3 linked regions of the Homo sapiens genome follow. Each later gene encodes a partner of the first gene's protein in a complex. Each region holds a gene or a part of one and is shown on either strand. Other genes may lie near its edges. The genes, in order: WNK4, KLHL3 and KLHL2.

Region 1 (7,802 bases):
ACCCGGGAGTGTAGGAAATGAAGTCCCCGCAGGATTTGGCGGCTCCAGCGCTGAAGGACCCGCGGCTTCATCTCCCGGAACCGCCTCAGGTACCTGGGGGAGGGCGCATAGCCAGAGTCCTGGTGGGGGGACACGTCCTCCGGGAAGGAGCCCCCCACTGGGAAGTTCCCCCCTGCCGCACCCTGCTGCCGCCTCCGCATCTTCTGCCAGCATTCTCCTAGCCTATGTCTGCCCGGCCCCAGGGAGAAACTGAGTCAGGGGGCATGGTGGATAGACATGACGTTACCAAACGGGTTGGGAAGTAAATTGATAGATAGGGCCTCGGCCAAGGTGCTGTGGGAGCGCAGGAAGGGATGACTAACTGCCCCAAGCATGAGGGAGAGCTTCGGAGAGGAAATACTTTTGTGTTGCATCTTGAATGATGAGTAGGAGCTCAAAGGTGAAAGGGGGAAGGGATGGAGACTTCCCAGGCAGACAGGACACCGTGCTCAAAGGCACAGAAAAAGCCAGTGACAAGGCAGGGTGGGAGGAGGTGCCAGGAATTTGGTGTGTCTGGAGCTTAGGCTGAAAGTGAGGCTGTATCCTAAGGACTTTGTGAACAGGTGAGCCTGTGTGGGCTTTATTCCAAGGCCATGAGAAACTTTGAAGGGGTTTTAAGGAGGGGAGTGACAGTTCAGATTTTCAACTGGGAAAGATTCTCCAGGCTGCAGGAAGATAGGATCGCTTAGAGGGTGGCAGAGTTTGGGAAGGCCCTTTAGGAGGCTGCTGCAGGGCTCCAGATCAGCGAGATGGCATTGAGGTGGTGGCATGGATGAAGCAGTGAAAGCCAGGTGGGGAGAGGTTAAGGAAAGACTTGGGGACAGACTGATGAGGGGGCAGAGTGGAGAAAGAGGAGTCTGGGGAGACACCCAAGTATTTTACTGGAGTGCTGGGTGGACATTGCCACTCACCGAGGCAGGGACAAAGGTTGGGTGAGAGGGAGATGGTGAACCTGGTTTTACACCTGGATATTAGAGAGTTTGAGGAGCCTGGGAGTTCAGGAAGCAGTGGGCACACATCCCAGCCTCCCTCTCCCCACCCACTCATGCGCAGAGCTCACGTCTTGAGCGTGCCCGAGGTCATGAGTTCGGTGACCAGCACGATGCAAACCTGGCCCCTCAGCACCGACTTCCACGAATCATAGAAGCGGACGATGTTGGGGTGCTGCAGCCCCTTGAGCATCTCCACCTCCTCTGAGAAGCGCTGCCGCTCAGCTCTAGACAGTTTCCGAGTCTGTGGGATGGGGGACGGGTGTCATGTCAGGCCCAGGACACCCACAGAAAGGAAGAGGGACACCTGGAGTGGGGTTGGGGGAAGAGGTGAGGGTTGGAGCCCACAGATGGGGTGGGGTTAATGGGATTACTTGCCCAGTGGGCTGCAGACCCTGAACTCTCCAACAGTCCCGCACGTAAGCTGATCCAAGGACACACCCAACCTGGGCCTGGGGCAGCCCCCTAGACCCCCTGCTGGACACAAGCACCTTTATGCAGCCCGGTCCCAGAGCCCTGAGCTCAATAGTGCCTTTGTGGCTGCCCAGGCCGGCCATGGGGCGGGAGGGGGCACCCGGGGGCTGGCAGTGAGCAGGCAGCAGGCGGGCAGCAGGATACTGCGGGCAGGGAATTGGGGCCGGCAAGGGGGTTGGCCCCAGAAACAGAACTGCTAGATCCAGACGGAAGGCGGGAGGGATATGGAGGGAGGTACTGAGAAGGAAAGAAAAGATCCAGGACTAGGCGCCAGGAGGCTGCCCACCCCCATAGTCGTCCCGCCCCGGCTCCTCTCCCTCCCCTCACCCCCCAATTTGGCTGCCTCTCCTGGCCTGGCCCAGAGCCTGGGGCGCGGCACTGGCAGGCGCAAGGGGCGAGCCCTGTGCCAGGGCTGGAGAGGGACCCTTCCCCTAGGCTCTGTCCCCTGATCTGAATCGGAAGCTTCAGGCCCCAAGTTGACTGGGTTCTCCTAACCCATATGTAGCATGGGAGCAATGGGAGGAAGGTCCCCCTAAAGCCCATGGGCTTAGTGCCTTTAGGTCTGGGAAGGGAGAGCACAGGTAGGCAGTGGGATGAGGAGCAGAACTGGACTCACTCGAGAGCTGGAGCTCCCTATGTCCCCCTCCTCGCAGCTGTGGAGAAGTCCAGAAGTCTGACTGCTCCAGAAGGGGTTAGGGGGCCCTATTCTGCCACAACTGCCCTAAATCTTCTGGAGTTGGAGATGACCCTTGCCCAGCTCCTGGCTTCCCGCATCCCAGCCTCCTGGTCTGCAAATAGGTGGGGGACGGGAGGAGTGAGGGGATCAAGAGGACCAGGGTCATAACTGAGGATCTCAGGACTTAGGGGAGAGGAAGGGATTGCGGGTACCCACCAGCAGGAAACTGACCTGAACTGGCTCCCCTGCCTAACTTCCCATCCTATTTTCCACCTCTCAGGGTTGAGTATGGAGACTTTAAAGTGAGAATGTTCATACCCATGGGGGAGTCACCAGACACCACCTGCCTCAATCTCTCCTTCTGCAGCCCAGAGTCAGCCAGATCATTCAGGGCAAAGACAGCAGAGGTGTCTATAGACATTTGACTGGAAAAATACATGCTTCCCTTGATGCTGTCTCCCCCACCCTCTGTCTGTCATCCTAAGACCTCCAGAGTCCCATCCCAAGGTGCCACCGAGGGGGCTCCCAGCCGCACCTGCAGCTCACACCAGGCCACCTCCACTGTGGTGTCGGTGTCTAGCCCTCGATACACCGTCTTGAAGGAGCCACGTCCAATCTCGATGTCAAACTTGAGGTATCGGCCATCGGGGGACGTTGCCACAGCCTGGGTCTCCATGTCCTCCTTTTCTTCCTGCTCCCGCCGCCGCTCTAGGGCCACAGCTTCAGGGACCCTTAGCGGCTCCCTGGACCCCGGGCCCACTGCAGAGTCCGGGAGCTCGGGACGCGCGGAGTCTTCCGCAGCCTTCACAGGGGCTCCCTCGGTCCACGTGCCCTCGGGGGGTTCTTTGGAGCTAGGCGGTGGGCTCCTCGCGGGGCCAGGACCAGCGGAGTCCGGAGGATCGGGGGGGTCCGGAGCGGGTGAGGCTGGCAGGGACCAAGAGCTCAGCAGCCCCAAGTCGACTGAGCTACGGCGGCTGAGACGAGAAGAGCGCGGCCGGGGCTCAGCCTTCCCGGAGAAGCGGCGCGCTCGGCGAGGAGGGGGCCCGAGGCGGGGCTGCCCCGCGGTGCCAAGAGGAGGCGGGGGCCGCAGGGCCAGGTCGGCCTCAGTCTGGGACATGAGGACGGTGGTCTCCGTGGCCGGGGATGCCAACATGAGGAAGAGCAGGGCGCCGAAGGGTAGAAAATCAGACGGCCGGAGAGGAGGCGGCCTGACAGACGGACTCGCTGGGTGCGCTGCGCTCCGGCTGAGCGGCTGCGGCCCCAGCCCCCAGCTCGGCCTGGCCCCGCCCCCGTCGCCGCCCCGCGGCCCGCCCTTGCCCCCCAGGGCCGCCCCTCCGAGCTGCTCCCGCGGTGCGGATCCCGCGAGCAGCCCCTCACCTTAGTCACCGCCCCGCCCAGCCGCGTCCCCTTCTTTCCCGAGCCCCCGGCCGCAGTCTCACTCTGAGGCCAGAACTGAGTGGGAGACCGCGGAGCATCCTCCCGCACTAAGAGTGAGCAAACCTGTTTGTGCGCGGAGGAGGGCAGGAGAGAACGACACCCGGACCCTAGTGGGGGATTACTTAGGGGGAGGCTACCACCCTCCTGCACACCCCAGATAAGGCAGCACCACCCCCTCCTAACTGTCCGGAGTAGCCCCAGGCCGAACGGAGAGGTCAGTGGAAAGGTCTGACGTTGTTGTCCCTCTGGTCTGCATAGGGAATGGGTGTGTACTCCCCAGGATAAGTCCCTCCCCCAAACCGAGAGCCCGGTCATCCATCCCCTCCAGGCCACCTTGGCCGCAGCCTAACCCTGGCCAGAGTGGCTGTTTTTGCTATATGGGCTCTCCTTCCTCCCCTTCTGTTTGCCAGTCTCCAATAAACCAAAGTCCACATCCGGCTTACCCCCCTCAGCTCCCCTTGGCCACAGTTACCCCACCCAGACCAGATGGGTGGAGGGAGGGGCTTCAGAGTAGTTCAGGACTTCCATGAGGGAGATGGTGAGGGAAGGGGGAGCCCTTAAGTGACTCCAATTCAGAGAGAAAGCAGTCTGTCCCCAAGCTGTGTTCCATCAGCACTCCTCCACACAGCCCACCCAGCAGATGTAAAACCACAGGCTCACTGGAGCCCACAGGGCCCTGGAGGACCTTTTCTTCTACAAAAGCCATAAGCTTTCTTTTCTCTCCCCTCTCCCAGGCTGGGATTTACTCAGGTGGCAACACTTCACAGCCCTCCCCATCCCCATTCCAGTACTGTAGTAATTTAAGAGGCAGGCAGTGGGAGTTGAGATTTTAATATCATAAATCGGTGTGGGGCCACACCTCTCACTGCCAGGCCCGTGGGCCTCCTATCTTCATATTGCCTGGAAGGCTGCCTGCAGCCAGGGCTTCCCCCATCCCCTAGGAAGGATCCAGCACCAGCCTGAGAAGGGAGGCAACAGCAGCTAAAGGGGTGGGAGGAGGAGGAGACAGAAGCATGTGCTGCAGGCGCATGTGTGTATGTACTTACATGTGTGAACACATATAAAGTGTCAGGTTTACAGACCCTGGCTCAAGGACAGTCTAGGATGGGAAAGGAGGTAGGGCGAGAAGAAGCACATATTTTCTCCCTGGTGCTTCAGCCTCACCCTATCCAAGGGACAGACATATGGGGTGTGAGAAACCCATCCCCAGGTCCCAGCCTTCAGGACTGGAGTCCTTTTGAGTCTGGTGGAGTCACAGATCCAGTCTTTGGGGGACACTGGGTCTGTCTCCTTTTGAAAGCCCTGGAAAGGTGGGAGGTAAGAAGTAAAGGGAGACAGGTCCCTGCTAGAAGAACTTGACGCCTCGGCCATCGCTGACAGTGATGATCTCGGCCTTGTGCTCCTGCTGTAGGGCCTGCAGAGCCCGCAGTAGAGTGGCTTCATCCAGCCCGTGGAACTCTGAACAGGGAGAGATAGGCAGAGACAATCAGCTCCTGAGGCCCAAGGCCTCTGAGGAGAGTGCTCTGGCTGGAAGCCGAGACCTCCCAGAGGCAGGGTATGCATAAGCCATCTATACTGCTACAGCTGCCATCCACACTTCCCAGGCACTCCTTAGGAGTAAGGGGTGGAAGAAAGCCTGAATCAGCATGAAATGAGTTTGTGCTTATTTCCCCCTTCTTGGTTCTCCTCTCAGACTCAGCCTCCCCCACACCTAGCATTTGTGTCTGATGCACGAGAATGACACCATCTGCTTCAGGGCCACAAAGGGGCCGTGAAAATCAGGCCTAGGGAGATCGGAGCCATTGTCACTAGACACTGACCCTAGAGGATCTATCCTAACACAAAGAATATAGCCAGTACCCCTGGCCAGGAGACTGTTAAACTCCAGCACTATTATCTGCCCTTTTTCTAGCTTTTAGCTGGGAGCACAGGCCAGGCGCGGTGGCTCACGCCTGTAATCCCAGAACTTTGGAAGGCTGAGGTGGGAGGGTCACTTGAGATCAGGAGTTCTAGACCACCCTGGCCAACATGGAGAAACCCTGTCTCTACTAAAATTACAAAAAATTAGCTGGGCATGGTGGTGGTCACTTGTAATCCCAGCTACTCAGGAGGCTGAGGCAGAAGAATCACTTGAACCCGGGAGGTGGAGGTTGCAGTGTCAAGATCGTGCAACTGCACTCCAGCTTGGGGGACAGAGCAAGACTTTGTCTCAAAAAAAAAACCAAAAAAATTGGGGAGCCTATGGCTAGCTGAGTATGTGGAGATATGGTAAGATACTGCAGGGAGATGTGGGAGGCAGCAGGCAAGCCCTGACAGGCTTGCTTACCTCACCCCCTGTGGGGGCTCAGCTAAGTCAGGGAGCTTGCTTTCTGAGGAAACCTACAACTTTGCCCAACCTGAGTGGTGGGCTAGGCAAGGCTACAGTGCTGAAATCATGGGGTGATGGTGGGAGTAGCAAGCAGAGACCTGCAGGGCAGCAGGGGGAACAGCCAAGAGCTATAAACTCTGCTAGGGCAGCCAGGGCCTGGCAGAAAGGGGAGACACCCTCTGTTATCCCAGCTAAGATCGAAACTTGTGGTGATCCAGAGGATCAGAATCTGGAGTCGGAGAAAAAGAACTAAGAGTGTTTACGCTATGTAAAAATCAAACACTATACAAATCCTTGCCTGGCCAGAAACCAAAGTATATAAATGGGCTGGGGGTGTTGGCCTAATCTCTTCAGCTGACACCCACAGATCTTGAGCCCTCTATAAGAATAAAGGGTGAAAGAGAGCCTGAGTCAGCAAGGAATGAGATTTCAAGCTTAATCCCCTGCCCTTGTTTCTCATTCGGCATCTATAGCAGATGCTGAATGAAGAAAGTTATTTATAATTTTTTTTATTGTTATTATTTTTATTTTCTGAGACGGAGTCTCGCTCTGTCATCCAGACTAGAGTGCAGTGGTGCGATCTTGGCTTACTGCAACCTCTGCCTTCGGGTTCAAGCGATCCTCCTGCTGCAGCCTCCCAAGTAGCTCAGATTACAAGCATGCACCACCATGCCCGGCTAATTTTTGTATTTTTAGTAGAGACGGGGTTTCACTATGTTGGCCAGGCTGGTCTGGAACTCCTGACCTCAGGTGACCCACCTGCCTCGGCCTCCCAAAGTGCTGGGATTACAGGCGTGAGCCACTGCACCCGGCCTATTGTTATTTTTTAAGATAGCATCTCGCTCTGTTGCCCAGGCTGGAGTGCAGTGGCGTGATCATAGCTCACTGCAGCCTTGACCTCCTGGGCTCAAGTGATCCTCCCACCTAAGCCTTCTGAGTAACTGAGACTACTGGTGCACAGCACCATGCCCAGCTGATTTTTAAATTTTTTGTAGAGACAGGATCTCCCTGTGTTGCCCAGGCTGGTCTCAAACTCCTGACCTCAAGCAATCCTCCCACCTTAGCCTCCCAAAGTGCTAGGATTACAGGCACGAGCCACTGTGCCCAGCTGAAAGTGAAATTCTTAACTTTTCATGGGTCATAGATGCCCTTGGAAATCTTGTAATATCTAATCTATCCCTAGAAAAATGCACATGCATCCACAAAAACAAAATTTGGGATTTTTTGCATGTGAATTCAGGTGGCTTATGGAATCCTTGGACATGGGTTAAGAACTTAGAATCGCTTGAACATAGGAGGCGGAGGTTGCAGTGAGCAGAGACTGCGCCACTGCACTCCAGCCTGGGATACAGTGACTCTGTCTCAAAAAAAAAAAAAAAAAAACAGGCGGGGCACAGTGGCTCACGCCTCTAATCCCAGCACTTTGGGAGGCCAAGGCAGGCGGATCACGAGGTTAGGAGTTTAAGAACAACCTGGCTAACATGGTGAAACCCCATCTCTACTAAAAATACAAAAAATTAGCCAGGCGTGGTGGCGCACACCTGTAATCCCAGCTACTCAGGAAGCTGAGGCAGGAGAATCGCTTCAACCTAGGAGGCGGAGGTTGCAGTGAGCCGAGATTGCAACATTGCACTCCAGCCTGGGTGACAGAGCAAGACTCCATATCGGAAAAACAAAACAAAACAAAACAAAAAATTAACTATGAGTGGGAAGGGAAAGGCATTACCCTCATCCTCTGTGTCTTCCCCATTAGTCAGTTCATACAGGGTAAAGACGGAGTTGTTCTGGCCACTCCTGGAAACCTGTGAATACAGAAAAT
Region 2 (8,265 bases), on another chromosome or scaffold:
AATTGTTCATTAGCAATCCCTTGGTTGAAATTTTGTAATGCTTAAAAACAGCCCCGATTAAGATTCAGCAGGTTAAGTGTGGAATGAGCACCAGATTGAGGATCCCTCCAGTCTCTGGAGGTTGGACATGTGATCCTAGGCGAGTCACTCAGCTTCTCTGGACCTCAATTTCCCAGGGAACTTGTAAAACAAGGCTACTTCCCTCTGTTCTCCCCCTACCTCAAAGCATTCCTTGAAGTCAGTTACCCGTGCTAAGATAATAAGGCTGATATCCAAAGATGAGGCTATTGGCCAAAGGCTTCAGTCTCTTCTTTCACCAACTTTCTTTTTAGTTATCAGAGCCTCACACAAAAGTTATTAGCTAATCAGCTAATAACTATTCAGCACCTGCTATTTGTGTACCCATGCAGTAGTCAATGGGGGTATTTAGAAGTACAAGGCACCAGCCTTGCCCTTGAGGACCTGTCTCCAAGTCTGGGGACTGCTAAGATATATGAAATAAAAGCACTGAAAGATCTGGTGGGCCTATTATTCAGTGTCCAACTATGAGATACAAACCAGAGGTATTAGAATTCCGAAGAACATCAGCCAGGACTAGAAAAGCTGAGTTTCCAAGATAAAGTAGAATTTTAGAATAACCTTGATAGATAGATAACTTTTGCAAAATTGGAAGGGAAAGACATCCAGCAAAAGAAACTCTGGGAGCTAAGGATATGAGGCTAGATGGAGTAATGTATAGGATGGGTGATCATGAAAGAGATCAACAGAATTCTCAGTAGGTATATGAGTGAGCAGTGGAAATGGGAACAGGAGTTAGAGTTCAGAAGACTTGAACGCGTGGCATGGTAAGCTGGACTTGGAGCAGGAACAAAAGGTATGACCTGGGTGACCTGGTGAACATTGGAAGCTGCTCGGTTTGGATTTCTTGTCTACCATCTGCCTTCAGCAGAGGAAAAGTACAAGAACATGTGCAACCTGGTGTTCTAAAGCCATAGACATCAGCCATCCCAGCTGAGAGGCCCCAGGACAGGGGCAAGGACTCACTATATTTCTGAACACAGAACTGGGAACACAGTGCCCAAAACTGTTTGATCCGCTGCTGGTAGTCTCACACTGACCTCTCAACCCCAGTTACACCACAGGTCAAGCAAATAGGCATGGCCCAGAATCTCTAAACCTTCATCGCATCAACCCCATTCTCTGCCACCTACCAGATCAATGGGACACTGTTTTGGGGACCAAAGACACTGCTCACCTCTGCCCCACACTTAGGAAATAGGCCTTCATATTCTGCTGCTCAGCAGGCCTCACAGAGTTCAACACTAAACTCCTGTTGCAAAGAGCACCCAGAAAGAGAATGCACCAGCAGCACAGTCAGTCCCAGGCTCTTCCTGTGGGAGTCATCAAGAAACACAGTTCCCAGGGCCTCTACAGACAAAAGAATGACACCCAATCATCATGCTAGTTCTAATAGGGTCTAGAGATGTTTAATGGCATCACTGTGCCCCGTGAGACACAGAAGTCACAACAACTCATGAAAAGGAAAGTGTTCATTGAGATACTCTCTAGTGTTGACTTAGTTGAGCCTATTATTGTTAACCAGATGGTTACTGTCTGCATCAAACTGGCAATCTGGAGCAGCAGGCTTCCCCTCAGTGGTGCACTGCCATGGCCGGACCCCTCCCTGCAGTCTTCTCTCCTCAGATAAAATGGCAAGCCTCGTACTCTACCAACTGCAGACCAAAGAATGAAGAGGTTGGCACTCAAGAGATATTTTACTTCATAGACAGAGGAATGTCACCTCTGCACTGCGCTGAGCACCTTCACAATGAAAGATTCAGATCTTCAGATAACAATTTAAAAATTTAGATGTGTGTGCCTGCCAGGATCTAACTGCCTCGCTAGTTAGATCCAGCTCAACAAAAGTACTTAAAATCTTTTCTGCTGGTTCCTATTTCAAAAGAAATCCCTGATGGAGGAAGCACAGACCTTCCAGTATCACTCATAAACTTTTCAATACAAATATGAAACTCAGTTCAGAGCAAGTATCATCTGACTGGGTTTCTCTCCTTCATCCCTGAATGTGTGTGTATACAGGCATACACGGCGTGCACGCGCGCACACACACAGCCATCAGCATGGCATGCTTGCTGAAGATTCAAGCACTCCTGCGTGAAAATGCAAGTACACTATGTCAGGTCAGCCCCACTATGACATCAAAAACCCCCCACCAAAGAAAAAACACCCCGGGAAAGGAGCCAGGAAAGGGAAACGCCTCCTTGAAACAGCCTGAGAAAGGCAATCTGATTCAGCCTGTGCTGAAACTATTCCCGAACACCAGCCAGGAAGTCCCTTCTTTCAGGGTGCTCCGCTGCCTAGCAAACCCAGACCTGCCTTTGCGGAAGCCAGATCTCTGGAGATTCAAGCCCTGGAACGGGTGATTTGGAAAGCGGCTTTCCTGCTCTTGTTCTGGCGCCCTTTAAGATCCATCAGTGGCCAGGTCTTCCAACTCTGCCTAGCCAATGCAAACACAAAAGCTGGTGGCTGCACCGCAAGCACACATACACTTACATACACACACAACACAGCACACACTTATACATACATACCTTTCACCCTCCATTGTGTGAGGCCCAGCCAGGGTGGTAGCTGCTGAACTGTGTATGCACTCGGGGATCCTAGTTCTGTTCTTGATTCTCCCAGCAGACCAGTGGGAAATCTGATCAGCAACAGTGATTCAGCATGGCTGCAAGTGAAGCCTCCTCCCTTCTCAATCCTCCTTCCTCTGACTTACTCGCAGCAGCTTCTACCGCAAAAGCAGCAGCAACAGAAAATGTCTTACCCAGAGCTCCCTGCAGCCCTTTCAGCTGCTAAAAGCAGCAACCCACTTGCTCCCCCTCCCCCGCAGGCTTGCTGCTCCTTGGTCTCCTAGGAACGGCGGCAGCTCCAGCGACCCAGGTGCACTGCCACCTTTCCAGCTTCCTCTGCATCTGCCCAGGCATCCCCAGCCCAGGCGATTAGCCCGCCCCTGGGGCTCCTGCCTCCTCTGTCTAGGCTGCAAAGAATCAGGCAGTTCGTCACTAGCCCGAGAAATACTGGCCCCTACACCCTCCCCTGCTCCCATAGGCTATGAGTCTGTCAGCCTGGCCAGATTGCTGGAATGAGGAGGCCCCTCTGTGGCCTGCAGTGGAGTTTATCATCCACCTGGGGAAATTCACTTGTAGGTCACAGTTTATGTTCCAAATCCTCCTCCCAAATTCTGTAGTAGCTCTGAGTGTCTGATAGATGGGGAGAAGTTAAGGGAAAAGCACCTGACAGAAGTGAGAAAAACACAGAGAGAAATTAAGAGAATACAGAGAGAAATTGGAAAACTAGTCGAAAAAGAGAGGTAGTACAAATAGGTGAAACTGAAACAAACCCTATTTTACTGCAAGAGGCCAAAGACTACTGCAGTAAAGCTATCACAATGAATACTAAAATATCTTAGCACAATCCTAAAATATCTTCCTAAAATCTGTCATATTGGAATTTAACTTAAGCAGTGGCTCCAACTAGTAAGTCTCCCACTGAACCCCCATATCCAGCCAAAGATCTTTCACATCCTGTAATCTCCAGCTGCTGAGCTTCAATTTAGACTAATTTAACTCTCCCTGCCTGAAATGCCTTCTCCAATCCCAGTCCTTTAGTCTTTCTGGGAGTCCAGTCAAATCCCATGTCTTCATAAAACCTTCCCTAATCACACCAATGACAGTCAATCACCACCAAAATACACAAACTATACTTTCCTGTATCGTCATCTCACACCTAATATACAGTCTTGGCTAATTCATTATTTATAAATCTTCTTTCCCAAACTAAAACATAATCTTGTGGAAGGCATGAGGCCAGTCTGTATATCCTAGCCACAGAGGCTTAGAGGTAACTGGGACAATTAGCTGCAAAAAGTGGTGCAGAAGCTATCCTAATGCCTCAGAAAAAAATCAGCTATGAGCATCTCTCTTCTGGGACACCTCATGGCACCCCTGGGCTTTTCCGAATCCACACCAGCACTCACTGGGTGAGTGACTTTCCTGAGTAGTGTTCTCCACACTCTGGACCTCATGCTCAGCTACTCATTCACAATATAGGGTCAGACCAGACAATCTTTAGAGTCCCTTTCAGCTCCAAGATCACAGGATTCTAAAAATGTTTTAAATGGTCCGTTTTTCTTCTCAGAGTAATCCGTGTGATTGTTTAAGAAGAAATACTAGGCTCCAATGTGTTGTAGGGGGCTTCAAGGAGGATAACATGATGTAGGTGAAAGTACGAAGAGACGCTCAGTAAATCTATCATCCTTATCATTTTAACCTGTTAAATTTCTTCACTACTACAAAGCCCTAAAACCACAGAAGGAAGAGAGGAACACTGAGGTGACAGAAAGTAAAAGTAACTAAAACTTTATATAGCCTCCTGAACTCAAACTGGCTACAGGGTTATTCTCAAAGATTACCTCCCCTGGCACCTCAGTGTTCTCTTAGACAAGGCCATTACTCACACTCACTCTTTCTCAAGTGAGAAGAGGCCTGGATAATTTCATTTACACCCCACAGGGCTGTATCTTCACTTCTTCCTTGCACAACAATACCCCTCATATCTTGTTCCCTCTATGTCCCTTCCTCCTCTAATCAGCCTTGTGGCCCTGCTCCAGATATTTCCTCTTGAGGCCAATCACAGGGACCACAAAAAGCTGAACATCACAAATAAGGAAACTGAATCTCGGAATCCGTGCCAGAGTTCAGACATCCACCAGGAACACAACTGGGTGATTCATAAAAGGGACATAAGAAAGAGATGACTCCTCCTTTGCACATACCCACGTTTACATATTCGCCATACAGGAAGGTGTGGAAATGCCACATCTAACAAACCAGACAAAGAAAAAAGATCAGAAAAGGAAATATGTAAGGGTTGTATGTATTCAAGTTTCAAAATATAACTATTAAGAGCCAGTATAAAACCCTGCTAAATTTCCCTGCAAAACCATACGACTACACCTTCATACTTTATTCACCACTCATGATTCACAGGAGGTAGACAGAATAGAGAACACTCAGAAGAGGCCATTTAGAAAAGAAAGGTCATCTTAAGCAAAAAGAACAAAACTGGAGGCACCACATTAACTGACTTCAAACTATACTACAAGGCTACAGTAACCAAAACAGTATGGTATTGGTACAAAAACAGACACATAGACCAATGGAACAGAAAAGAGAACCCAGAAATAAAGCTGTTCACCTACAACCAACTGATTTTCGACAAAGTCAACAAAAATAAGCAATGGGGAAAGGACTTCAATAAATGATGCTGGGATAACTGGCTATCCATATGCAGAAGAAACTGGACCCTATCACCATATATAAAAATTAACTCAGGCACAGTGGCTCATACCTGTAATCCCAACACTTTGGGAGGCCAAGGCGGGCAGATCACCTGAGGTCAAGAGTTTGAGACCAGCCTGGCCAACCTGGTAAAACCCCATCTTTACTAAAAATACTACAATTAGCCAGGTGTGGTGGCATGTGCCTGTAGTCTCAGCTACTTGGGAGCCCGAGGCAGGAGGATCACTTGAACCTGGGAGGCAGAGGTTATAGTGAGCCAAGACTGCACCACTGCACTCCAGCCTGGGTGACAGAGCAAGACTCTGTCTCAAAAAATAAAATAAAATAAACCCAAGATGGAGTAAACAATTAAATGTAAGACCTAAAACTATTTAAAAAAGGAAAAAAACCTAGGAAATACCCTTCTAGCAATGCAGCAAAAGCAAAAATTGACAAGTAAGACCTAATTAAACTAAAGAGCTTCGTATAGCAAAAGAAACTATCAACAGAGTAAACAGACAATGTACGGAATAGGAGAAAATATTCATAAACTGCATCTGACAAAGGTCTAATATGCAGAATCTATAAGGAATTTAATTCAACAAGCAAAAAACATGTAAACCCATTTTTAAAAGTGGGCAATGGACATGAACAGACGTTTCTCAAAAGAAGACATACAAACAGCCAACAAACATGAAAAAATGCTCATCGTCACTACTCACCAGAGAAATGCAAATCAAAACCACAATGAGATACCATCTCACACCAGTCAAAATGACCATTATTAAAAAGTCTAAAAATAACAGATGTTGTCAAGGCTGTGGAGGAAAGGGAATGCTTATACACTGCTGGTGAATGTAAATTAGTTCAGCTACTATGGAAGGCAGTCTGGAGATTTCTCAAAGAACTAAAAATAGAACCACCATTCGACCCAGCAATCCCATTACTAGGTATATGCTCAAAAGAAAATAAACCATTCTGCCAAAAAGGCACATGCACTTGTATGTTCATCGCAGCACTATTCAAAATAGCAAAGACAAAAAATCAAGTTAGGTGCCCATCAATGGTGGACTGAATAAAGAATGTGTGGTATATATATACCAAGGAATACTACACAGTCATAAAAAAAGAATAAAATCATGTCCTCTGTGGCAACATGAAAGCAGCGAGAGGCCATTATCCTATGTGAATTAGTGCAGAAATAGAAAACCAAATGTCACACATTCTCAGTTATAAGTGGGAGCTAAACATTGGGTACATATGGACATGAAGATGGGAACAATAGATACTGGGGACTACTAGAGGATGGAGGGAGGGAAAAGGGGTTATATGATTTGGATGTTGGTAGCCTCCAAATCTCATGCTGGAATGTAATCCTCAGTGTTAGAGTTGGAGATAGGGCCTAGTGGGAGGTGCTTGGGTCATAGGGGCAGATCACTCATAATAGTTTCACACTGTCCCCATAATAAAGAGTTTTCACTCTGAGTTCACTCGAGATCTGGTTGTTTAAAAGTGTGTGGCACCTTCCTCCTCACTCTCTTGCCTCTGCTCTCATCACGTGATATACCAGCTCCCCCTTTGCCTTCCACCACAATTGTAAGCTTCCTGAGGCCTCCCCGGAAGCAGATGCCAGCACGCTTCCTGTACAGCCTGCAGAGCCATGAGGCAATTAAACCTCTTTTCTTTATAAATTACCAAGCCTCAGGTATTTCTTTATAACAACACAATAACCACCTAATACAAGGAGCAAGCCTAAAAAGGTAGTTGAAAAGCTACCTATTGGGTACCATGCTCATTACCTAGGTGACAGGATCATTCATACCCCAAACCTCAGCATCATGCAAGATACCCATGTAACAAACCTGTACATGTACCCCTCGATCTAAAATTAAAGATGAAATTTAGGAAAAAAAAAAAAAAGGAAGAAAGGTTATCTAGCAAAACCAGGGGCAGAGCTGAGTCAAGAAGCAAAGTCTCCAGACTCCTGGCACAAAGTTCCTACCCCCAATATTTTCCAGTTTCAGAAACACATTTTACATTTTCTACCTTATTATCCAAATGTTCTCTGGACCACAGTCTGAACCTGTTTGCTCTATGCTAATTTTCCTGACTGGACTTCAGATTAAGGACAGTTGCTATTGGAGTCCTGCAGTAGAGGAGAGTCAAAATAATCAATGTGGTATCTGTCTGGAGAAAAAGGTCCCATCCTCAGATTGCTCAGCAATAATAGTGTCTTAGTCCAGCAGGCCCCAACCTTTTTGGCACCAGGGACCAGTTTCATGGAAGGCAACTTTTCCAAGGATGGGGGTGGGGGGTCAGGGGGGATGATGGTTTCAGGATGAAACTGTTCCACCTCAGATCATCAGGCATTAGATAGCTTCTCAAGGAGCGCACAACCTAGATCCCTTGCACACACAGTTCACAATAGGGTTCATGCTCCTAGGAGAATCTAATGCCACTGCTGAGCTGACAGGAGACAGAGGTCAGGTGGTCATGCTCGCTTGCCGGCTGCTCACCTCCTGCTGTGCATCCCAATTCTTAACAGGCCATGGACCAGTACCAGTCTGTGACCTAGGGACCACTGTCTTAGCCCAGTCCTTCCCACACCCCAGCCTTCTTCTACAGCTTATCAAAAGTCCCTAGTGGCCCCAGATCTCTACCCCAAAGCAATGTATTCAGCCATCTACACCAACTTTGTTTAGAATCATTCAGCTCTTATGTGGCTTAGGAAGAAACCATGTTGGGAGGAGAAACTTTTTTAAGCTAGGTTTTATCTAGAAAGTTCTCTCTTCCATACTCTATCTCTGTACAGGGAGCCAGTTAAATTTATCTGAAGACAGCTAAGCCAATCATTCTTCCTTGTAAATGCTCTTTTTCTTTTCTTGCCTTTACCCTCCTTCTCCAGGAC
Region 3 (7,420 bases), on another chromosome or scaffold:
ACCTTAAACTCACTGCCAAGACTGAACAATTTTTATAAATGGATTATTTTGTAAGAACAAAAACTGACACCAAATAAGATGGACAAATATGAATTAATGAAGACTTAAAAGATGGGTACTTATAAAAGCAGGTGTAAGGGTATTTGAAAAATGTAAACACATATAAAATCAGCAGACCTGGCATGAATACTGAGGTATTAAGGGAACTAGCTAATGTACTTACTGAGCCACTTACAATTATTTCTGAAAAATCTCAGAGAACTGAGGATAGATCAGAAAATTTAAAGAAAGCAAATACCAAATTTTCAAACCAGGATAGGAAGTGAATACCTTGTAAATACACTTTGTTAAGTGATGATAATTCTGAGTAAAAATTTAGAAGATTTTGAGAAAAGCATTTGAACTTCTAGGGGCCAATAAAATACCATGCAGAAGAATGTTTAAAAAGTCATGCCAAATTTGAATCCATTTGATCCTCAACCTCATCAGATGTTATATGCCAAACTACTTATTTTGGCTTAGATAATAATCATATAGAATGAAACTTTCCACAAATAGACTGTGTCAGTGGCTGGCTACTTCTAACAAGGTGCCACCAAGAGAGTTTTGAGATCAATTCTAAATTAAAATATTTGCTAACGATCTAGAAAAATAAGTCAACAGCATCCTGGCAAATCTGCAGTTAGTTATAAATTGAGAACTGTTGTTAGTAATAGGCAAAACAGAAAAACAATACCAATATAGATTTGCAGCAATTAAAAATGTAGACTCCAAAGTAAAACTTAGAAAAATATTAAAGTATTAAAGTGAAAGAATTTAAAAAACAATTCAATGGAAAGGACAGAGTAATAACTGAAGATGATATAAGAAAACGAGAGAACAGATTCTTATTTCTTAATCCAGCATTGCCCGAAACATATACAAGAGTTAAAAATAAATACATAAATAAAGTCTTTATATTATGAGTCATTCTGATTAGACCACGCACAAAATGGTGCTTAAAGTATTGGTCGTACTATAAAGATGTAAACAGAGCAGAAGGAATTGCCAACAGAGACAGAAATGAGGGGTTATTTCATAAGAAAAATTGAATTGGTAAAATATGAATGGCCACAGCTAAAAAGACCAAGGTAGAATATAAACATTCACATAGGAAAATATGAACACGAGACACACGGGAAGACATGGGAATGTATGCTGAAATGGCTACATATGATGTGCAGGGAACCATCAAATGGTATACAGCAGGGAACAGCAATGAGATGAACTGAACAAGCTATTTTTATCATCTGTAGTTCTAATGTGTAATTCTGTGAAACTACTGGGTTTTCAGTTATTAAACAAACACCTAGCTTACAAAATAATTCTTTTTTTTTTTTTTTCTTTTTTTGAGACAGAGCCTGTCACATTGTTGCCCAGACTGGAGTGCAGTGGGCACTCCACTCAGCTCACTGCAACCTCCGCCTCCTGGGTTCAGGTGATTCTCTGCCTCAGCCTCCTGAGTAGCAGAGATTACAGGCACCTGCCACCACACGTGGCTAATTTTTGTATTTTTAGTAGAGACACGGTTTCACGTAGATGGCCAGGCTGGTCTCAAACTCCTGACCTCAGGTGATCCACTGGCCTCAGTCTCACAAAGTGCTGGGATTACAGGCATGAATCACAGCACCCCAGGCCTACAGAGAAATCCTTCTACCTGGTCTGATTTTTTTGGACTATAATTAGAGCTTTCTACTATAATTAGAGCTAATAAAACTCAGAGGGGACAAAAACCAGTTGTCTTCTGTTCCAGAAGAGTGACATCATGCAGTTTATAAAAATTAAACGGACCAAAGAATCCCCACCCTTAACATATAAAATCAATAGAGGTTGAATTACATACACTACAATGCATTCTTAGGCACATTTTCTCTTGAAGGAAAACTAAAACAATAAATCACGGAAATTCAAATGAGCAAAATACTAACAGCTTCACTTATAAGCCTTTTGCATGAGGTAATAACAAGCATGAGAAACAGATCCTACTTTGGGAAGGTTCATGGGTGTCCTCAGCCGGGTCCGGACACTCTTCATTAATATACGCTGCTCTGTTGGCAGCAAATGGTACTTCATTGCTTCAATGAGGTAATCTTTGCAAGCACTGCTATTCTTGACCAATGCTTCCTCTTCAACCCTCTGTAACAAGAAATCAGACACACCCACTGAGGGTAGGGCTATTTCATAATTAAATTGCCAAAGAAAAAGAAGTAAAGGAGAGGAAAAAAGCAGTAACTATATCCTTTAGTTTAGTCTAAAAATAAACGAGGAAAGTTTATAAATACATCTAAGAGAAAAATAAATATAACCAAAAAATGCTCAAGTATCTGGCCTGCAGAGAAAAACATATATAGGTAATAAAAAGAAGAACCACAGTGAAAAATGATAAACTTCAATGTTAGCTATGGAATATGATGAACTCTTCGGATATTATATCCACCTGTGTATCTTTAACCTTTAAGACAAAAAGTAAGCAAAACAAGAAACAAAGTTTAGATAATACATCCTTCAGGTGAAGACAATACTAATAAGTTAATGATACCTTTTTCAAACACAAGTGGGCAAGTAAAATATCCCAAAAAGAGATTAGAAATACCTTAAAGCAACGTACCCATAACACAAATAAATCTTGTACTGCCTAGCCTGACCTCAAACGCAGGACAGGCTTCTGGGTTCGTTTTCTTTTTTCTGGGGGGGGAGGGGGGGCGGGGGGAAGGGAACAGAGTCTCACTCTGTTGCCCGGGCTGGAGTTCAGTGGTACAATCCTGGCAAACTCCACCTGCCGGGTTCCAGCAATTCTCCTCCCTCACCTTCTTGAGTAGCTGGGACTACAGGCACCTGCCACCATGTCTGGCTAATTTTTTGTATTTTTAGTAGAGACGGGGATTCACCACGTTAGCCAGGCTGGTCTCGAACTCCTGGCCTCATGCCTGCCTCCGCCTCCCTAAGTGCTGGGATTATAGACGTGAGCCACTGACCGCACCCACCCTTTTGGATCATCTTCTTAATACCAGAAGACCCATGATTACACAGATCACAAAAAGTAATGAGATTTCAAGAAATCCTAAAATGTTCAAATCTAATTTCTTAATAAATGATTCTTTCAATGGTTTCAATTATTAAAATAATGCTGAAATGTTCCTAGCGGGATTCTAATAAAAAAAACAGTAAATTTAAAATTATTTGGAGACCACTAAAGAATCATTTTTCACATTTATTTCAAATAATGTTTTCCCTCAGCTTAGAAATAAAGACAGAAATCAAATGCATGCCACTATTAAATTACGAAGTAAAATTAAACGGTATTTGGGTCAGACCTCAAAATTCCAGGTCTGCAGGGGAATCAGAAGAGACTATGGAAAGAAAAAAACAGTAAAGAAGATGCAAAGCAGTGACTGCCACAGGGACATTTATTTACATGTATTTAAGTGACCACAAATACTACCTTGATAAGCTCTAGTACTTGCTTACCCAAATCAAAAATAGGGGCAAAAGCAAATTTCTAAGAACGGGGAATGGTGGCTGGGTGTGGTGCCTCACAAGGCCTGTAATCCCAGTAGTTTGGGAGGCCGAGGCGGGTAGATCACTTGAGGTCAGGAGTTCGAGACCAGCCTGGCCAACAGGGCAAAACCCCAACTCTACTGAAAATACAAAAATTAGCTGGGGTTGTAGCATGCACCTGTAGTCCCAGCTACTCAGTAGGCAGAGGTACAAGAATCACTTGAGCCCGGGAGGTGGAGGTTGCGGAGAGCCGAGATGACGCCACTGCACTCCAGCCTGCGGGGTCCTTTACTGTCTTCTGTCCTGTACTCCACAGATCTGCATTCTACAGCTCTTATCACTGCTTGATAGGGATCTACATGCTGTCAGGCCAGTGACACAGTGCTGTGTGGATTCATATGTTTTGCATATGCATTTACCTGAACTAAATATTCCCGAGGAAGCAAAGGTAACCGTACATGTTCCATCAGTCGGGCCATAAACTCTTGCCTCACATCCTTGTCATGGTTCACCCATGCTATTACTGCTTCAAATACCTTGCAGAAAATATAGGAGAAGAAAAAATAAGAAATGAGTTGTGTATCAAGGCATCTGGATAAAATATGAGACTACATTTTATATATAACTCTTGCTAAGACATCCAAGTTTAATTCACAGCTCAAGTGTTTTCAAAATCCTGACTTGCAATGTACTTACAAAGCCATTCACCCCATTTCTTTTCTGTTCTTTTTTTTTTTATTTACCCAAAATAATAAAGCAAAGTGATATTCTGGAATGAAAATCATGTATCCTTATAAACAATTCATGTTTGGCTTTTTCTTCAGGTTTACAAACAAATGTTAGACCATACACATAAATCGAAGGTTTGTACAATAGATCGACTCAGCTCTGTAATAGCAGAATATATTAAAATGTAGTATTTTGAAATTTTTTTTTACAAATTAAAAAATAAGGGCATTATTTTTTACAATACATAATTGTGAGAAAGCTAATAAGCTAATATGAAGACACTGTTTGTCTACATAATTTTCTTCTCAACTGATGAATATATCACTTAATAATCTTTAAAGGTTTGCAGGAAATGTTTGACAATATGCAATTGGATAACTGAGACCAAAAATAGGTTATTTTGATCCAGGAATAAAGCAAGAAACTAATTCTCTCATACTTTGTGGATCAGCTTACATTTTGGCAACCTTTTATTGATTTCTGCAAATAAATAACAAGAATGAACAGAATGGAGGTAGTAAAACATTTTGCAAAGTTTGAAAAAAAAAAGCAAGAAACTAAAAATAATGCACATTAAAATTAACACCCCTCTTTAATTCATTCTGTCAACAAGTATTTATCAAGTGTCTCTACGTGCCAGGTGCCAGAGATTAGGTGAACAAGATAGTCGGCCTTCTGGCAATTCTATCTAATATTTCTCAGTTCTGTCTTCTCTCCCCCCTGCTTCTATCATCCCATATCGGAACCTGCTGCTCACTGGTATGACTTCAACATCCTCTCATCTGGCCCTCACCTCATTTTTGGTCCATACTGCCCACCACCACCAGATAGCTAGTCTCCAAAGATAGCCTCCTAATAAACCACATCTCCCAGATCCATACCCTTATATAGTAACCCTCCACACTGAATCTAAGCTGGCCCTGTTAACCAGTAGAGTGCGGAGGAAGGGACACTGTGCAATTTCTGAAGGTAGGTCTTAAGCAGCCTCACTACTTCTACTCTGCTCTCTTGAAATGCTCATTTGAAGGAAGCCAAATGTCATGTAAGAAGTCTGGCTACTTGAAACCACCACACCATGAGAAACCCATGCAAGTTACAGAGAAGAAAGGAGGGGAGAGGAGGGAGACCTAGAGAGAGACCAATCAACCGGGAGCCCCGGAGCCAGACAAAAGTAGGTGGAGGAGCCACCTTGGACATTACAGACCCATAAGATGCCATGTGCAGAAGAACTGAAGCTCCAGATCTATGGCTCCAGTAGAACCATGCCAGGTATCTCCAGGCATCTGGGTCACCTTAGCCGAGGTCTCAGACACTGTGGAGCAGAGACAAGCTGTCCCTATTGTTCTGCATGAATTCTGACCATAGAATTGTTAGCATAAAATGGTTATTGTTTATGCTTTTACATTTGGCAATGACTTGAGTAGCAGCAGAAAACCAGAACAGCCCTCATGATATTTCTATAATGCAGGTTTTGGCATGGTTTTCTCCTCTGGCTTAAAACCCTTTTAAGGCTCATCACTACAATACAGTTAATTTTCTTTAACATAGCTGAGAAGATATTTTATTATATCATCTTCTAATTTTATCTTCCACCAATGTCTCATATTCTAAACTCCCATCATACTGAACACATTGAATACAATTACTCTTTCATATCTCTTTACATTTGTATATTCTGCTTCTTCTACCTGGAATGCCCTCTGCATTCCCACCCATCCCTATTTCTCTGGCAAACTCAGACTCATTTTTAAAAGACTTGAAATATACATCTGAACCAAGTTGAACTACCATCCCCATACCTATCCCATTCCTGGAAAAGTTAAATGCTCCTAAGGCACCCTTTACAGCATTCTGTAATCAATTATTTACTCTACTGGCTGTCCCACTAGTCTATGAGTAACAAATTCTATTCTGCTAATCTTCTCTTCTCTAGGAGCCCATGGCAGTGTCTGGTACATGGAAGGCACTCAATACATGTCTATTAAGTGTGAAAGTAATGTCATCTTCCTCTGTATTTCTAGGATGCTAAGATTATATATGTCACAAATGCTTTCACATTTTTTAATACTGTAAATATTAGAGTAAATGTGTCTTTAACCCCAGGTGAAATGAATAGCCTTGAGAAAGAGAATCAGAATTTACACAACTTGAAATGCTAAGCACACAAAGGAGAAACTCAAGTTTCATTTCCTCTAAGCACAGCTTTTGTGCTCTGATTCCCGTGTGCTACAAAACCCACCCAAGGAAAAACAGCCCACTAAAAGGAGCTTCTCTCTCCAACTATACGAAAAGTGCAGGTGGCTGACAAAGGTAATTCAAAACGTGGAGAGACAAAAGACTACAACCAGAAGCAGTAGCTGCACAGAGAGGGAGGGAGGCAGGGAGGGAGAGAGTCAGGGAGGCAGGCAGGCTGAACGGACTGGCAGGGGTGAGGTATTATGTCACAGGAAATCAATCTAAAGGAAGGTGACAATCAAGAATGTTCAGTCTAGAACTACCAAAACTTCGCCATCCTAGGTAACCTCTTTCAACTCAGAAGACAAGGAAACTAATTTAGTGACAAATATTATGTTCACATCATAATTCCTACAGGCATTGAGTTGTAGGAAGAAACTAGTTTCCAAAAAAGCATTTGTTTCAGATAGTCTAATGTGTGCAAGCTCTTGCTGTGGAGGTCAAGTACAAAACTGTAGTGGCTAAAAATTTAGGGAACCTCCCACAAAGTGAAGACCGGGAGTAATTTACATAGACAATCAACAAGTCCTGAGTTTCTTTTTTTTCTCCTGGAATCCTTTCCTGAAGTAACTAGCTGAGTTTCTTAACTTCCAGTTGAAACATCACTGGCTGTCACTACACATACAGGATCACAAAGCTATAAAAAAAAGTGAAATTAAAAAAAAAAAAAGGGAAACATCATTGCACACTGGGAAAAGAAAAATATCCTTACCTTCTCTTCTGAAGAAATGGTAAGTTTGTCACTTGAGATTAAGCTGCACACTTGTTCGATGCCAAGATTGAGAAATTCTTCACTAAGTACAACATCTGCAAAATGTTGCTCTGTTTGGGAATTAAAAAGAAAATCCACTAACATCAACATTCCATTATCATAGTTTCAAACTGCTTAAAAAAGGTTTTTCTTAATTTAATCTAACTT

The links.
Region 2: the proteins of WNK4 (region 1) and KLHL3 are in contact, whole or in part, in a crystal structure (PDB 4CH9), measured with the Homo sapiens proteins. Residues at the interface, in NP_115763.2 of Homo sapiens: Glu557, Pro558, Glu559, Glu560, Pro561, Glu562, Ala563, Asp564, Gln565; in NP_059111.2 of Homo sapiens: Arg339, Phe355, Gly357, Ser358, Leu359, Arg360, Thr386, Phe402, Gly404, Gly407, Ser432, Tyr449, Gly451, Ser481, His498, Arg528, Tyr577.
Region 3: the proteins of WNK4 (region 1) and KLHL2 are in contact, whole or in part, in a crystal structure (PDB 4CHB), measured with the Homo sapiens proteins. Residues at the interface, in NP_115763.2 of Homo sapiens: Glu557, Pro558, Glu559, Glu560, Pro561, Glu562, Ala563, Asp564, Gln565; in NP_009177.3 of Homo sapiens: Arg345, Phe361, Gly363, Ser364, Leu365, Arg366, Thr392, Phe408, Gly410, Ser411, Thr412, Gly413, Ser438, Ser439, Tyr455, Ser487, His504, Arg534, Tyr583.

The regions. Positions count from the first base shown.
Region 1 is NC_000017.11:42,776,228-42,784,029, reverse strand, and holds the start of WNK4 (serine/threonine-protein kinase WNK4), read right to left. Parts: upstream 3,421-7,802; 5' UTR 3,332-3,420; coding exon 2,714-3,331; intron 1,273-2,713; coding exon 1,100-1,272; intron 94-1,099; coding exon 1-93. Other genes in the region: VPS25 (vacuolar protein-sorting-associated protein 25), read right to left, coding at 4,961-5,073, 7,710-7,785. UniProt on the Homo sapiens protein: Serine/threonine-protein kinase component of the WNK4-SPAK/OSR1 kinase cascade, which acts as a key regulator of ion transport in the distal nephron and blood pressure.
Region 2 is NC_000005.10:137,733,024-137,741,288, forward strand, and holds the start of KLHL3 (kelch-like protein 3), read right to left. Parts: upstream 3,067-8,265; 5' UTR 2,624-3,066; coding exon 2,610-2,623; intron 1-2,609. UniProt on the Homo sapiens protein: Substrate-specific adapter of a BCR (BTB-CUL3-RBX1) E3 ubiquitin ligase complex that acts as a regulator of ion transport in the distal nephron.
Region 3 is NC_000004.12:165,294,262-165,301,681, reverse strand, and holds part of KLHL2 (kelch-like protein 2), read right to left. Parts: intron 7,324-7,420; coding exon 7,214-7,323; intron 4,074-7,213; coding exon 3,957-4,073; intron 2,176-3,956; coding exon 2,026-2,175; intron 1-2,025. UniProt on the Homo sapiens protein: Substrate-specific adapter of a BCR (BTB-CUL3-RBX1) E3 ubiquitin ligase complex that mediates the ubiquitination of target proteins, such as NPTXR, WNK1, WNK3 and WNK4, leading most often to their proteasomal degradation.